2 separate regions of the Homo sapiens genome follow, and region 2 is linked to region 1. The links come from fine-mapping of genetic effects on gene expression. A gene starts in region 1. The other region holds a variant in brackets. All regions are shown on one strand. Distances are from middle to middle.

What was found. PIP is the estimated chance that this variant, and not a neighbour inherited with it, causes the effect. A credible set is the group of variants that fine-mapping cannot tell apart.
Region 2: its variant is the best candidate, but not a certain one, in a credible set for the expression of SNX33 in whole blood (INTERVAL, PIP 0.81).

Annotation. Positions count from the first base shown.
Region 1 is chr15:75,646,038-75,648,861 of GRCh38, reverse strand. It overlaps SNX33 (sorting nexin 33), which reads right to left and starts at 950. Exons shown (of 2, transcript NM_153271.2): 1 at 1-950. RefSeq lists an enhancer at 475-1,166 and a silencer at 792-1,331.
Region 2 is chr15:75,685,084-75,687,923 of GRCh38, reverse strand. It overlaps CSPG4 (chondroitin sulfate proteoglycan 4), which reads left to right. Exons shown (of 10, transcript NM_001897.5): 3 at 1-648; 4 at 2,223-2,705. Among named protein-coding and RNA genes, the nearest start is that of CSPG4, 26 kb to the left of the region's middle. RefSeq lists enhancers at 733-1,237, 1,238-1,743. The variant T/C (reference allele first, on the strand shown) is at 1,645.

The sequences.
Region 1 (2,824 bases):
GGCTCATGTCCACAGTCTCCTCCTCCCTTAGCAGCCTCTGGGGGGTTAGAGGGGAATCTCTCCTAACTCCTACTCCCAGAAGAAAAGTCAAGTGACCTGGAGAAATCTGCCCTGCGAGGGGAAAAATTCGACACTTTCCACTGGAACAACGTTCTAAAATAGAAGAGACTCACTCTGAAACCACCATTCCAGAAACCCGGGCAGGGCTCGGCTGTCCCTCTGGCTCCCAGATTCTTTTGGCGGCTCTCGCTTTGGGAGGCTCTCACATTCCTCTGCAGATCTGCCCCTTCCTCCTTCCTCCTCTTGCTCCTGGGCCACTGGGTTTTCAAAAATCCGGAAAATCCAAGAGGGGCAAGGAGAAAAGCAGCAGCCGCCTGAATCGAGTCCAAGGGTGGATGTGTCCGGCTTCACAACGAGCCAGGCCGGGAAAACAAGGACTGAGGCTTACACAACAGGCCGCCAACTCTTCGACCCCGGCTGCGCAGCCGGAGCCCCCGCCGGCTCGGGCGCCCTCTCCCCGCCCCAGAAGTGGCCAGCCCCAACCCCGGAGGAAGGAGGGGGCGCGACGAGGCTGTCGGGCGACTTCTAGCCACTCGCTGAGTGGTCTCTTTTGTTTGCCTAATTCCTCAGCAGTTTCTGAGCCTGACGCTGACCCTGCTCTGAATCCCAGGAACCCCGTCCAAAGGTAACCCCAGCAGAAACCGGTTCCTCACCCGGGACTTACGACCCCCGATCACCACCCTCGCGTGCACGCACACACTCAACAGTTTGGAGTTTGGAGAGTGAGCTCCGGCGAGCAGATGGCGCGGCCAGCCGTCTGTCCGTCCGTCCTCCTCTCCGCCCTGCGGGGCCCGGCCAGTGGGGGGCGGGCTGCGCCCCCAGCCTGCCTTCCCCGGCGCTCGCAGACCCTCCGCTCCGCCAGCGAGAAGGCAGCTCCAAAACAAAAAGGCGATTCCGGGAGGTGGCGTCCTGAGGAAGGAGGGGATCGCCAAAGGGGAGGTGAGGGGTGGGGAGAGGGAGGAGGGAGGGGGAAGCAGGCTGGAGAATCGGGCAAACTCCGCTGCACTTCCGTGCGTCCCGGCGGGGCAGGGACGGCCAGCTCCGCCCTCCCGCGGGCCCGGGGCGCTGCAGCCGAGCCCCCGCCTACTCCTCCGCGCGGCTTCCCAGCTGGCCAGCGCCCTCGCTCGCTGGCGCTCAGTCCGGGAGGCGAGAGGGAGGAAACGACCCGGGAACGAGGGGGCCCGAGAGCCTCCGGGGCTGGTCCCTGGGACCGCCACCTCCCCTCCTCTCCCTCCGCCTGTCCGCCCTCGCCGGGAGACACCTCACGCCCCCGTGGTTGGAGCGCCCGGCGGGGGAGCTTGCCAGCTGCCGCTGCCTCGCTTCCTGGACTCCGTCATCCTCCTGCCTTTTCCGTGACGCAAATGGAGTAAAACTCCGAAAGTTTGCAAAGCGTGGGGCTGCAAGGAGCACCGCGCCAGAGCCAGGATCGGGAGATCGGGGTGGGGGGAGGGGGGTGCGTGGAAAGCCGCCGCGCCAGCTGGGGTTGGGGAGCAGAGTCGCGGACTCGCCTTCCCACCTTCCCATTCCCCACTCCTGCTCCGCAGGGACGGGTCGTGGCGCAGCTCAGAGATTGTTTTCCGGAGGAACAGAAACGGCCTGCGCGTTCCAGGCGTCTGACCTAAGATACCGAGAGCTGCGGGTGCAGCACCCTAGCCAGACAGGGCGACCCTGCCCTGGGCGACTAGCTTGGAAGGAGGGAAAGACACTACTCTACATCTGCAGCGACAGGGAACAAGTCTAGGTGCCACCCGGTTCCGTGTTGCTTAGTACAGCAGCGGGGACTGGATGTTCTGTGCTAGCCAGCGGCAGCAAGGAGAGAAGTGGTCAGGTAGAGAATCTTCGAGAAGAGGCAAGTGGGATCTGACCCTCGGTCAGCATATCGGGAACACTTTGGGCATTGATTCTGCTAGGCACTGTGCTGGGCACTGGGGAGTAGTACACCACAAGGCAGTCGGGGTTTCTATCCTGGGGGGCTTACAGTCCACCCTCTCTTGTCTTTAATCAATCCATTCTGTCTCAGTCATTCATTCAGCCAAGTCATGCACTCAAGAAACATTAACTGAGTACCTACTCTGCACCAGGCCCCTGAGCTACAAAGACAAATAAGACATTATCCTTATTTTCCAAAAGCTCAGATATGTTGTGACAAGTAGACAAATGCTCCCTGCCCAGTGTGACTAGTTAGTGCCATGAAAAGTGCACATGAGGGTACCTACCCCAGCCTGGGTAGAGCAAGGATCAAGGAAAGCTTCCTGAAGGAGGAAGTGCCTAAGATGAGGCAAAGGCTTCAGGAGGACTCCCTTTCCTGGCTATACCCTGGAGTCTTGTCTACCCTGTCTAGCTAGATCTTCCCTTCATTCTCTCCCTAGTCACTTATTGCAGATTAACTGGTACAAGGTAGTTCTGCTAAAGATGGATACCTTTGGCTGTTTTGAGGGACATGGTTCCCAGACCTCTGGCTCCAAAACCCAGTTTCACTGGTTCAGTGAGTGGATCCGACTCCCTTCGCAGGTCTGGCATTTGACCAGAATAAAGGCCTATGTACAAACCCCAGAAGGCTAGGTATCAATTTGCACAGAGAAATAAAACTGTCAAGCAGAACTGAATTTCTGCATCAATAGATCAAGGCAGTTTGGGCTACCCCTTGGGAAGCCCAGTTACCAGAAAGTTAGCTCAGTGAGTCTGGAACCCCCAAGAGGGGAAAGGGTATGAGGAGTCTCTCAGTCAAGTAACCTTAAAACCTTGCTTCCTGTCATGGGGCAGC
Region 2 (2,840 bases), 39 kb before region 1:
GACTCGGGCTTTGCTGACGCCCAGCTGGTGCTTACCCGCAAGGACCTCCTCTTTGGCAGTATCGTGGCCGTAGATGAGCCCACGCGGCCCATCTACCGCTTCACCCAGGAGGACCTCAGGAAGAGGCGAGTACTGTTCGTGCACTCAGGGGCTGACCGTGGCTGGATCCAGCTGCAGGTGTCCGACGGGCAACACCAGGCCACTGCGCTGCTGGAGGTGCAGGCCTCGGAACCCTACCTCCGTGTGGCCAACGGCTCCAGCCTTGTGGTCCCTCAAGGAGGCCAGGGCACCATCGACACGGCCGTGCTCCACCTGGACACCAACCTCGACATCCGCAGTGGGGATGAGGTCCACTACCACGTCACAGCTGGCCCTCGCTGGGGACAGCTAGTCCGGGCTGGTCAGCCAGCCACAGCCTTCTCCCAGCAGGACCTGCTGGATGGGGCCGTTCTCTATAGCCACAATGGCAGCCTCAGCCCCCGCGACACCATGGCCTTCTCCGTGGAAGCAGGGCCAGTGCACACGGATGCCACCCTACAAGTGACCATTGCCCTAGAGGGCCCACTGGCCCCACTGAAGCTGGTCCGGCACAAGAAGATCTACGTCTTCCAGGGAGAGGCAGCTGAGATCAGAAGGGACCAGCTGGAGGTGAGGAGTTGGAGGTGGTGAGCAGGGGTGTGGGCCAGGTAGAGGGCCTTCTCCCAGCCTCCATGCCAGGAACACACGTGACTTGGGCTGTGGCTGTGGTGGCTCCAGGTTACATGTGTGCACGTGCCTCAGATGTGCTCCCGTATATGTTGTGCTCCCAGGAGTTTCTGGGGAGCTTGCTATACACCCATCCTCCTGGGAGTTGTGTGCGCCTCCAGAGGTTGTGTCCACTCATGTGTATGACATGGCTGAGCATGCAGATTCCTGGACCCCACCCAGCCCTACAGAATCTCTGACGTGGAGCCCGAGAATCTCCATTGCAGTCAGTTCCCTGGGAGGACATCACGGGTCCTGAGCTTTGGGGATTGCTGACCGTGGAGACAGGCCGCTACTCCTCAGACCCTCATGTCCCCCACTCTTTTCTCAGAGCCCAGACCTGGGTGGCTTCTGCCCACCCAGGAACCCCACAGAGCAACCACGGGCCCTCCAGCAGGCTCACTGACTTGCCCTGTGACCTCAGGCCAGTCCTTGCCCGCTCTTGGCCTTACTCTCCTACACTGCTCATTTCGGAGACCCTTCTGGTCTGCATGTCTGGAGCTTGGGGCCGACAGCAAGCCAGCAGATCTGGAGTCAGGAAGGCCTCGCGGGAGGAGGCAGCGTTTGGGCCGGGCTCTGAAGAGCACAGGCCATCAGGAGCAGAGAATGGGGAGTGGTATTCCAGGCAGAAGGAACATTCCGGGCAAATGCATAGAACAGGAATGTGAGTTTGGGGGGTGGTTTGGCCTCTTGTGGCTGGCCCATCAGGTGAGGGAGCCCGTGTGGCCTTTGGGGCGTGAGCTCTGTAGGGCCTGAGCTGAAGGCGGCTGTGCCTCCAGGAGGGGTGGGGCGGGGCGCCCTCTGATGGTCCTGGGTGGTAATAGCAGGGGCTGGGGAGGTGCTGCCTGCAAACCAGCCACAGGCCTGAACGGATCCTGAGCAGGGGGGCCTGTGTGTGTG[T/C]GTGTGCACACACGCATGTGTACATGTGTGACTGCGTCAGCATATGATGAACTCGTGTGTCTGTGTCACTGAGTCTGGGGACATGTGATTATGCACCTCCCTGAGGGAGTGCATCTCAAGCTGTGTGACCGACCCCCTGCAACCGTGTGTGGGGTGGGCATTAACATGTGACCAGCAGCCGGGGCAACCCAGTGAAACCCCATCTCTACACAAAAAATTTAAAAATTAGCCGGGCCTGGTGGCACATGCCTGTGGTCCCAGCTACTTGGGAGGCTGAGGTAGGAGGATCCCTTGAGCCTGGGAAGTTGAGGCTTCAAGGAACTGTGATTGTACCACTGCACTCCAGCCTGGGTGACAGAGTGAGACCCTGTCTCAAAAAACAAAAAATGTGACCAGCTGCATGTCTGGCTGCTGTGTGTGTGAACCCACGTGTGTGTTTGTGTGTCTAAATGAGCAGTGGTATCTAGAGGAATAAGTGGGGCAAGATCAAGCCTGTTCCGGCTTCTTAGGGCCACAGTGGACCCCTCTGAGACCCCCTCTGTGGCCCCCTGTGAGTCCTTGTGACCTCTGTTAACCAGGCAGCCCAGGAGGCAGTGCCACCTGCAGACATCGTATTCTCAGTGAAGAGCCCACCGAGTGCCGGCTACCTGGTGATGGTGTCGCGTGGCGCCTTGGCAGATGAGCCACCCAGCCTGGACCCTGTGCAGAGCTTCTCCCAGGAGGCAGTGGACACAGGCAGGGTCCTGTACCTGCACTCCCGCCCTGAGGCCTGGAGCGATGCCTTCTCGCTGGATGTGGCCTCAGGCCTGGGTGCTCCCCTCGAGGGCGTCCTTGTGGAGCTGGAGGTGCTGCCCGCTGCCATCCCACTAGAGGCGCAAAACTTCAGCGTCCCTGAGGGTGGCAGCCTCACCCTGGCCCCTCCACTGCTCCGTGTCTCCGGGCCCTACTTCCCCACTCTCCTGGGCCTCAGCCTGCAGGTGCTGGAGCCACCCCAGCATGGAGCCCTGCAGAAGGAGGACGGACCTCAAGCCAGGACCCTCAGCGCCTTCTCCTGGAGAATGGTATGGCTGTGAGAGAGGCCCAGGGGCTGCAGCCCAGCTCTGGGGGCAGAGTGGAGGGAGCCCTGGGGACTCCCAGTCTGGGGGTTATACACAGAGAGGAGACGGGGAGTCACATTTCAGAAGCACCTATGCTTT